Linked DNA regions of Homo sapiens: region 2 is linked to region 1. Evidence: fine-mapped expression QTL. Tissue or cell type: caudate. Region 1 holds a variant in brackets; the other region holds the start of a gene. All regions are shown on one strand. Distances are from middle to middle. Region 1 overlaps CA5A (carbonic anhydrase 5A). Region 2 holds the start of CA5A (carbonic anhydrase 5A).

The links. PIP is the estimated chance that this variant, and not a neighbour inherited with it, causes the effect.
Region 2: it holds the start of CA5A, and the variant in region 1 is the best candidate, but not a certain one, in a credible set for the expression of CA5A in caudate (GTEx, PIP 0.78).

Annotation. Positions count from the first base shown.
Region 1 is chr16:87,897,047-87,902,415 of GRCh38, forward strand. CA5A (carbonic anhydrase 5A) reads right to left here. Exons shown (of 7, transcript NM_001739.2): 5 at 4,866-4,928. Among named protein-coding and RNA genes, the nearest start is that of SLC7A5, 30 kb to the left of the region's middle. RefSeq lists an enhancer at 789-1,488. The variant T/C (reference allele first, on the strand shown) is at 3,118.
Region 2 is chr16:87,933,480-87,938,848 of GRCh38, forward strand. CA5A (carbonic anhydrase 5A) reads right to left here and starts at 3,050. Exons shown (of 7, transcript NM_001739.2): 1 at 2,830-3,050. The coding sequence starts at 2,971.

The DNA of each region.
Region 1 (5,369 bases):
GGTGTACGACAGGCAGTGTGGTGGCGGTAATGGGCTTCCATCAGTGCCTGCCACGTGGGCGTGGGGCTCAGTAGGTGCTGCCGCTGCTGCTGCCAAAGCTAGAAGAGCCCCCACAGGGCACAGAGCCGTTCCCTGGATCCCCTGGACCTGGTGGGCTGTTTCCACCTCCACAAGGCAGCCAATTCCCCGGTAGCTCTGACTGTTGCGAAGGCAGGGAGGAGGGGGGACCCCAGCAGCCTGAGGAGCTTGCGGCTTGTCCAGGCATGGAGGGTGGGGACCCTCTGTGGGCAGTTTTTGCCAAAACTTCTGGCTATGGTGAGAGGGTCAAAGGCGAAGCCTTGAGGTCTCCATTCTGGAATTGTCTGCCCGGGGTCACCAGGACCACACTGGGGCTGTGCCTGCGTGCTGGGAGCTGAGTGCATAGTGACAGGTCGGCACTGGTAGGGGCCTGTGCAGATGGGATGGTGCTGGGGGTGGGGGTGGGGGTCCAGGCTTCCAGGCAGCGCCTGATGTGGTTTTGGTTACAGACACTGCCTGTGTTTCCCTCTAAGCTGCTGAAAAGCTCAGAAATGTGCAGCAGGGGCTGGAGCTCAGCCTGGGTTCTGACTGCATGCGGGAGGTGGGCGCCAGGATGACTGGGACTTCAGGCTGCGTGGACCCACTTCCTGGGTTTAAAAACGGGCTCTTCACCTGCCAGCTGTGTGCTCGGGCAAGGCCTTCTCTGCCTCTCTGAGCTTTGGTTTTCCTGTGTGTGCAAGACAGATGAATCACAGGCCCTGCCCCGTGGAGTGATTGGAAGATTCAGTGTGATAATTTATGTGGAGGGCTGTCGCTTCTTTGAACCCCTTCCGCCGAGGTGTAGGGTGATGTCCCCTTGCCCTGAGCCTGGGCAGGTGCTCCTGACGGGAGTGGTAAACAGGATGCCGCAGGAGCAGTGCTTTGTGACTCTGGAAGCCAGGGCAGAAAAGGACATCGTGTCCATCTGGCTCTTTCTGGAAATGCACCCTTGGAGCCCTGAGCACTGCATAGAAGCCAGCTGGGTCCCCAGGGAGTGACCGTGGCAGGCATTCCTGGAGGGTCTCTGCCGAGTCAGTCCCACAGCAGGGCCCGGACCAGCCTGGAACCAGGAGAGATGATGGGGACTACGTGACTCTGGTCTTTCCTGCCCTAATTCAGGACAACTTGTTCCTTAACTGGAGGAAACCAGGAAAGCAGCCCAGAAGCTGCAGGTGAGCCCGTCCCTGGGTGAGAACTGCTGAGTCCGCGGGGGAGTGGCAGAGCTGGGATTTGAAGCCAAGGCCATCTGCCCTTGAGCCTGAGGCCACCATGGCCCTGTCCTGCCCTGCACTGCCCACCAATCAGGAATTAGATTCAACCACACTTCTAGCATTTTCCATCACAAGGCCATCATTCTAAAATTTCATGGGCTCCCAGAAGGTAATAGCTCTCTCTGGGAATCACCTGACAGAAAGCACCCGCAGCAACAAAAAGCGATTTTAACCTTAGTGATTGGGCTGGTGGATTTTCGTTTCGTGACGGGCAGCAGCAGCCTGTGCCTTCCACAGCAGACTTGAGTGTGTGAGTGTTGGCCACAGCTGGGCCTTAAACTCAACTGCACATTTCACCAAGAACCAGACATGCTCCTTATTCCATTACATGGTGAGAATGCTGCTCTAGTGTGGATTTTTTTTTTTTTTTTTTTTTTGGAGACGGATTCTCGAGCTGTCACCCAGACTGGAGTGCAGTGGCACGATCTCGGCTCACTGCAACCTCCGTCTCCTGGGTTCAAGCGATTCTCCTGCCTCAGCCTCCTGAGTAGCTGGGATTACAGGAGTGTGCCACGATACCCAGCTAATTTTTGTATTTTTAGTAGAGACGGGGTTTTGCCATGTTGGCCAGGCTGGTCTTGAACTCCTGACCTCAGGTGATCTATTCACCTCAGTCTCCCTAAGTGCTGGGGTTACATGTGTGAGCCACCATACCTGGGCTACTGTGGATGTTTAATATCTCCATTTCACAGGCGAGGAAGCTGAGGCTCAGAGGTGCGCAGCTCAGGAGTGGTGGATCTGGGCTCTGAACCCAGGAGTCCAACTGTGGGGCTCTCTGATACACTGTGCTATGGGAGAAGCTCCCAGAAGTCCTAGGCTAGGAGCCTCTAGGCGAGAGAGTTGTTCAAGTCTCTTCCCATTCCCTGGCCCATGAAGCACAGACTCTTGCTCCCAAGGCTGGGCCTTTTACCTCCTAAGGTCTTTTTTTTTTTTTTTTTTTTTTTTTTGAGATGAGTCTCGCTGTGTCACTCGGCCTGGAGTGTAGTGGCACAATCTGAGCTCACTGCAACCTCCACCGCCCAGATTCAAGCAATTCTCCTGCCTCAGCCTCCTGAGTAGCTGGGATTACAGGCACCCGCCACCACGCCTGGCTAATTTTTGTATTTTTAGTAGAGATGAGGTTTTATCATGTTGGCCAGGCTGGTTTTGAACACCTGACCTCAAGTGATAAGCCCGCCTTGGCCTCCCAAAGTGCTAGGATTACAGGCGTGAGCCACCGCACCCAGCCTCTTAAGGTCTTTTAATTTCTCAAAGGTCTAACTCGGCCAGGTGCGGTGGTTCACGCCGGTAATCCCAGCAATTTGGGAGGCCAAGGTGGGCAGATCACTTGAGGTCAGGAGTTTGACACCAGCCTGGCCAACATGGTGAAATCCCGTCTCTACTAAAAATACAAAAATTAGCCAGGCATGGTGGTGGGCGCCGGTACTTCCAGCTACTCATGAGGTTGAGGCAGGAGAATCACTTGAACCTGGAAGGCGGAGGTTGCAGTGAGCCGAGGTCGCACCATTGCACTCCAGCCTGGGCAACAGAGCGAGATTTTATCTCAAAAAAAAAAAAAAAAAAAAAAAAAAAAAAAAAGAGTCTAACTCTTTATTTTCAGCTGAGGGGATGAGCCCAGAGATCAGCATCAGGACCAGAGCTCAGTCCGCGGTGGCACTTCCTCCCCTGTCCCGGGCATCATTCCTCCCCTGTGGTTTGCCTAGAAAATTCTGACTTACCCCATGGAGAAGAAATGCTCCAGAACCTTCCCCGGGAGGAAAACAGCCCTTGGGTAAAGGGTCCTTCACAA[T/C]CAGCTCTTTTCTTTCCCACCAAGAGGTGGGACCACCTGGTGTGGGAGGTGGAGGCTGGCTGGGAAAACAACCCCTGCCCAGGTTTCCTCTGGCTGTGGAGCCGCGTGGAGGAAGAGGATGGGGCGTCAGAGCTCTCAGAACCGTGGCCTTGTGAAGTTCCTGAGCAGGCAGATGGGGCGGCAGGGGGTGATCTGGTCCCAGTCCCAGGAGGCCACCCCGAAGCCAGCATCAAGGCGAAGGCCACGTACAGATCAAACGTCTCCTTGAACCGCGAGGAAGGGCTGGTCCCAGCTCCATCTGGACCAGCCTCCACCATTGTTAACACAGGTTGAAGCCTCATCCGTCCGCACATGTGAGGCTTGCGTTGACTCCTTCTGCCCTGGAATTCTTTTGTATGCTGCTGAATAAATAAACTACATTTCTTTGGAATTTCTCCTTCTCCCTCAAAGCCTTTTCTCAGCTGATCTTGGAGAAAGGCGACACTGTTGTCCCCACCATCTTTTCGAGCTGCGCTGGATACAGGGAAGCCTATGGATCGCTGGGCGGAGAGCTGCGGTTTGGGCAGGTTTCTCTCCGCCCTTGGGCTTGGGGTCGGACAGGGACGTTCAAGGAGAGTGCTGGGTGGTACATGAGTCAACATTCTTAAATGTTATTAGTTAGGGATTTGAGGTTTTTGTTTCAATCTGTTTTAAAACAAACTTTATCATTAGTGAATACCATCACCCAGGACAAGGCTAAAAATTTTTCGAGCTAATCAATTTAAAGAAAAATATTAACTAGGCTGGGCGCGGTGATTCACGCCTGTAATCCCAGCACCTTGGGACGCCAAGGCGGGCGGATCACCTGAAGTCAGCAGTTTGAGACCAGCCAGCCTGGCCAACATGGTGAAACCCCGTCTCTACTAAAAATACAAAAATTAGCTGGGTATGGTGGCGCACACCTATTGTCCCAGCCGCATGGGAGGCTGAGGCAAGAGAATTGCTTGAACCCGGGAGGCGGAGGTTGCAGTGAGCCAAGATCGCGCCACTGCATTCCAGCCTGAGTGACAGAGGGAGACTCCTCGAAAAAATAAAAAAGAAAAGAAAAGAAAAATATTCAGTAGAAAGTTGTCCCATTGGCAGGCAGATATGTCAAACGTCTTCAGGATCTCGCCTGCATGGCTGAATTTTGGGAACTTCTGTTGAGCTCAACACCCTTATTTTATGGAGGAGGAAACAGGGTCCCAGAGCAGTGGTGATGCATTCGAAGTCAGAGAGACCTAGCTGTGGACACACCAGCATCAACCCTGCGGAATCCCATTTCCAGAACTGGAACCACAGCCCCTTGGCGGGGCTCTTTCCACTACGCCATTTCTTTTTCCTTGCAAATGAATCGCTGCACTAAACAATTTTGCTTGTCAGATTATACTGATTTCTTTCTTTTCTTTTCTTTTTTTTTTTTTGAGATGGGATTTCACTCTTGTCACCCAGGCTGGAGTGCAATGACACGATCTCAGCTCACTGCAACCTCCACCTCTGGGTTCAAACGATTCTCCTGCCTCAGCCTCCCGAGTAGCTGGGATTGCAGGCATGTGCCACCGCACCCAGCTAGTTTTGTATTTTTAGTGGAGACGGGGTTTCTCCATGTTGGTCAGGCTGGTCTCGAACTCCCAACCTCACGTGATCCACCTGCCTCAGCCTCCCAAAGTGCTGGGATTACAGGCGTGAGCCTCCGCGCCCGGCCTGCTGATTTCAAATATGCAGCTTACCTTATGTTTTATTTCCGGCAAGATGTCCACCAGCCTCTGCAGCGTCTGATGATGGGCCCCGAGCTGCATGGCAGACAAAGGAGGGGTTAGCTGCAAAGGCAGTGGATGGGGGGGGAAGCTCACTCCACTGTAAATACACCACGTTTTAAAAGCAATCCTAGGCCAGGTGCGGTGGCTCATGCCTGTGATCCTAGCACTGTGGGAGGCCGAGGTGGGCGGATCATCTAAGGTCAGGAGTTCGAAACCAGCCTGGCCAATATGGTGAAACCCTGTCTCTACTAAAAATACAAAAATTAGCTGGGTGTGGTGGCACACTCCTATAGTCCCAGCTACTGGGGAGGCTGAGGCAGGAGAATCACTTGAACCCAGGAGGTGCAGGTTGCAATGAGCCGAGACTGTGCCACTGCACTCCAGCCTGTGTGACACAGCGAGTCCTGTCTCAAAAAAAAAAAAGCAATCCTAATGATGGATCACCACTTTCTTCATTAGATCTACACCCGAGCA
Region 2 (5,369 bases), 36 kb after region 1:
ATCCTCCTGCCTCAGCCTCCCAAGTAGCTGGGATGATAGGTGTGTGCCACCATGTCCAGTTAATTTTTTAATTTTTTTTTTTTTTTAGAGATGGGTTCTTGCTATGTTGCCCAGGCTGATCTTGAACTCCTGTGCTTGAGCTGTCCTCCCACATCAGCCTCCCAAAACAGTGCTGGGATTACAGGTGTGAGCCCCCATGCCTGGTTCTAAAATTATCACTGAGCGTTTTGTAACTCTTTGACTTTTCTCTCAAGGCCAAACCACCAGTGATTTTTCAATAATTTTTAGTAACAATATTCTTTTTCCAAGTGAAATAATCTTCAGAATGCCCATAAATAAAACACCGACATAGAAGGATGAATTCCTTATGATGTTCCAATCTTCTCTGCTTGGCAGAATATTCTGCTCTTTGTGGAACTCTGAAATGATTTGGCAGAGCCCTCTGTTCACTGGGAACAGGTTGAGGACCATGGTGTAAATGGATTTAGGTGCCGATACAGAATATGACTCTCTCTAGCACACGATGTAAGAGGACATGTTGCCACAGTAAGAAATGGAATGCTACCTGCTGCCCACTGACAGGGAAATGCTTAAATAGACACAGGGCACCCACCGCTGCCTGTGTTAGCAACAGCAGCAGCTGGCGTCTAGCAAGGGCTTCCTGGAGCCATGTGCTGTCCCCAGCCTTTGCAGGCCCCACCTCGGACCCTTCTCCCAACGACACTGTGCCGTAAGCACCATTATCAACCCCCTGTTACAGACGACAAAACCAAGGCTGGGGGAAGTTAAGAAAGTCACAGAGGGGACAGCTGGGCGTGGTGGCTCACGCCTGCAATCCCAGCACTTTGGGAGGCTGAGGCGGGCAGATCACCTGAGGCTGGGAGTTCAAGACCACCCTGAGCAACATGGAGAATCCCTGTATCTACTAAAAATACAAAATTAGCCGGATGTGGTGGCGCATGCCTGTAATTCCAGCTACTCGGGAGGCTGAGGCAGGAGAATTGCTTGAACCTGGGAGGTGGGGGTTGCGGTGAGCTGGAGATCGCACCACTGCGCTCCAGCCTGGGCAACAAGACAGAAATTAGTCTCAAAAAATAAAGGAAAGTCACAGAGGGGCAACAGCCATAGAGCAGTGGGGCCAAGATTCCAATCTAGGCAGGCTAGCGCTCTTGACGGTCGTACTAAGAATAAAAAAGGGGGGTGGGTGCAGTGGCTCACGCCTGTAATCCCAGCACTTTAGGAGGCCGAGGCAGGTAGACCACCTGAGGTCGGGAGTTTGAGACCAGCCTGGCCAACATGGCGAAATCCTATCTCTACTAAAAATACAGAAATTAGTTGGGCGTGGTGGCACACGCCTGTAGTCCCAGCTACTTGGGAGGCTGAGTCAAGAGGATCGCTTGAACCCAGGAGGCAGAGGCTGCAGTGAGCCGAGATCGCACCACTGCACTCCAGTCCACAGGTGTGGACCCCAACAGGAGGAATGAGTGTAGCTCACTCAGAGTCTGGGGTGGGCCAGGCTTTCTACACGCATCGTGTCATCCTTCCATGGCCCTGGAGAGAAAGTCTGGCCACCCCCATCTCGAGATAAGGACACAGAGGCTTGGGGGTGAAGACCTGCCGAGGCTCCACCTCAGCAAGCGTCAGTCGGACTGCATGCCTGGGGTCTGGCTCCTAAGCCCATGCTCTTTCAATGGCCCAAACATGGAATGCATGGAAGATTTCAGTTAGAAGAGAACTTGGCAGCTGCCAAAGCAGGCTCTCATTCTACGGAGGAAGCACCTGAGACCCAGAAAGAGGAAGGGCCTCGTTCAAGGTCACAAGGCACTGACCATGAAGCCAGGAGGGGCTGGCACGGGGCAGTTTCTTGGCAGAGCTGGCTGAGTGGTTTATTTGTTACAGGTTTGCTTGAAAGCGTTCTCTGCCGAAGAGTTTAGGAGCGATCGTGACTGGTTAGTGCAGCCCATTCCGCCGGGTCTGGATGGTGAGTCGTGCCAGTGTGTCCCGTGCGAACACGGACTACCCGCCTGCTCCCAGCATCTTGCCCTCCCCAGGACCCCTGAAACGGAGGCTAAATGATTCACCCAAGGTCACCAAATACAAGAGAAACGGAGTGTGGCCAGGCGCGGTGGCTCACGCCTGTAATCCTAGCACTTTGGGAGGCCAAGGTGGGTGGATCACCTGAGGTCAGGAGTTCGAGACCAGCCTGGCCAACATGGTGAAACCCCATCTCTACCAAAATACAAAAAATTAGCTGGGTGCAGTGGCGGGTGCCTGTAGTCCCAGTTACTTTGGAGGCTGAGGCAGGAGAATCACTTGAACCTGGAGGGCAGAGGTTGCAGTGAGCCGAGATCATGCCATTGCACTCTAGCCTGGGCAAAAGAGCAAAACTTCATCAAAAAAAGAAAAAAGAGGGCCGGGCGCCGTGGCTGATGCCTGCAATCCCAGCACTTTGGGAGGCTGAGACAGGCGGATCGCGAGGTTAGGAGTTCGAGACCAACCTGGCTAACACAGTGAAACCCTGTCTCTACTAAAAATACGAAAAATTAGCCAGGAGTGGTGGCATGCACCTATAGTCCCAGCTACTCAGGAAGCTGAGGCAGGAGAATCGCTTGAACCCGGGAAGTGGAGGTTGTGGTGAGCTGAGATCACGCCACTGTACTCCAGCCTGGGCCACAGAGCGAGACGCCATCTTAAAAAAAAAAAAAAAAAAACGGAGTGGAAATCTGAACCCATCTGGCTCGGGACGGTCTCTCCTCTCTCCTCTCGAAAGACCCCATCAGCTAAGACAAGGATCCAGTCGCATCTTAGGAAATTTGAGGCTCTACTTACAAGTGTTATTGCTGGTTTGCCATGCACAGGAACGCTGAGAACACCATCGCCCTGGCCTCATCGAACGACTCCAGAGAGGGGCCCACATCTGCTCAACCAAGAAGGAGAAAGCTGAGGTCTTCCAAGTGTTCCTCCCCAACATCTTGGGTCTGTTCCCACTGACTCCAGTCTGAAGAGGGTGATGTTCCCTGCTGTCTGTTCTCACTTTGATCAGGACCACTGTGGACTGGCGTGTACCCACCTCTTTTTGTAGAAACTCATCCCAACCCCTGAGCCTAATGGTTAAAGTTCAACCCATGCCTTTCCCAACAGGGTGGGTCCACAGGGATTAGTGGCCTCTGCTGGGGACAGGCCACTCAGGTCACTGGGCTTTGATCTGGCAAACAGGAGCACAAGTCTGCCAGGGAGCTAGAAAAACTGTACGGTGGGGCTGCGTGAGCACCAGGGGATTACGCGGGAGGCGGGGGCGAGTGGATGAGAGCAGAGTCCCTGTTTCTTTCATGGGGTTGACCGTGTGGTTTGGGGCTCCGGGACACTCAATACCAGGCACAAAGCCATGGTGTGCATGTGAGGAGGGACTGGCAGGCAGGCTCAGAAGTACAGGAATGGGACTGGCCAAAGCGCTGCTGGGTAGACAGGCCAGGGGAGCAGGGAGCTTCTGTCCACCCACCAGGGCTCCTGAAGTCATGGAGTCCTTGCTTGCCTTAAAATAGGTGCGATTTGATTCATTCATCCTCCCCGGAAGCAAGATGCCCTGTGGCTTCGGACACTTCCAGGTCATGCCTGCTGTCTTGGCATAAACATTAACAGGGCCACCTTTCTTTCTTTCCTTTTCTTTTTTTTTTTAGACAGAGTTTCACTTCTGTTGCCCAGGCTAGAGTGCAATGGCGTGATCTCGGCTCACTGCTACCTCTGCCTCCCAGGTTCAAGCAATTCTCCTGCCTCAGCCTCCTGAGTAGCTGGGATTACAGGCGCCCACCACCATGCCCAGCTAATTTTTTGTATTTTTAGTAGAGATGGGGTTTCACCACGTTGGCCAGGCTGGTGTTGAACTCCTGACCTCAGGTGATCTGCCTGCCTCGGCCTCCCAAAGTGCTGGGATTACAAGTGTGAGCCACTACGCCCAGCCTCTTTTCTTCGTTTCTTTTCTTTTCTTTCTTTCTTTTTTTGAGATGGAGTCTCGCTCTGTTGCCCAGGCTGGAGTGCAATGGCGTGATCCTGCCTCACTGCAACCTTTGCCTCCCAGGTTTAAGCAATTCTCCTGTCTCAGCCTCCTGAGTAGCTGGGATTATAGGCACACACCACCACAACGGCCAATTTTTTGTATTTTTAGTAGAGACGGGGTTTCACTGTGTTCCCCAAGCTGGTCTCGAACTCCTGAGCTCAGGCAATCCACCCACCTCGGCCTCCTAAAGTGCTAGGATTACAGGCATGAGCCACTGCGTCCAGCCTCTTTTCTTTTCTTTCTTTCTTTCTTTCTTTCTTTCTTTCTTTTTTTTTTTTTTTTTGAGGTGAGGTCTTGCTCTGTCACCCAAGGTGGAGTGCGGTGGTGCCATCATGGCTCACTGCAGTCTCAATCACCCAGGCTCAAGTGATCCTCCCTCCTCAGCCTCCCAAGTAGCTGGGACTATAGGTGCATGCCATTATGTCCAGCTAATTTTAAAAATTATTTGTAGAGGCAGGTTCTCGCCATGTTGCCCAGGCTGGTCTTGAACTCCTGGGCTCAAGCAATCCTCCCAGAGTGGCCTCCCAAAGTGCTCGGATTACAGGCATGAGCCACTGCCCCTGGCCTGGTACCTCCCTTCATGCCCAGGGTCCACATGGGTATGTTAGCTGGTCACTCTAGCCAGGCAGCTGGTGATATTTGCAGACGCCAACCCACAAAGAACCTTCCTTTGGGTCCTTTGAGCGGCACAGCAGTTTATTCACCCAGACACCTTTTACCTGTGAAATGGAACCCATGGGATTGGGATGCACCAGTTTGTGACTTCTTGTTGTTGTTTAAACTTACAATCTTTTAGGGGGCAGGGCTATCATAACTTTTCATAGAATCCTGGAATCTTAGATCTAGAAAACCCTACAGAACACAGGTGTTGAAATGCGAGTCCACTTGTAGGCTCCTGAAAGCCCAAGAATCCCACTGAAATCCCCCACACAATGGATAGGGTCTGCGGCTTTCGGCCACTGCTCTGGTGGGCCCAAGAGTTTGCTTGCATTTGTTTTGAGCAACAAAAACCAAGTCTGGATGATATGTTCTCTCCTTCCCACACAGTCATGGTGGAAATGCACCCACTCTTGGGAAGTCTGATTCATTGTCATTCATTCATTGACCCACTCACTCATTCATTGACTCACTCACTCACTCATTGACTCACTCACTCATTCACTCACTCACTCATTCATTCACTCACTCATTCATTCTCTCACTCAGTCAATCATTCATTCACTCATTCATTCATTCATTCACTCACTCATTCACTCACTTATTCATTCACTCACTCATTCACTCATTCACTCATTCATTCACTCATTCACTCATT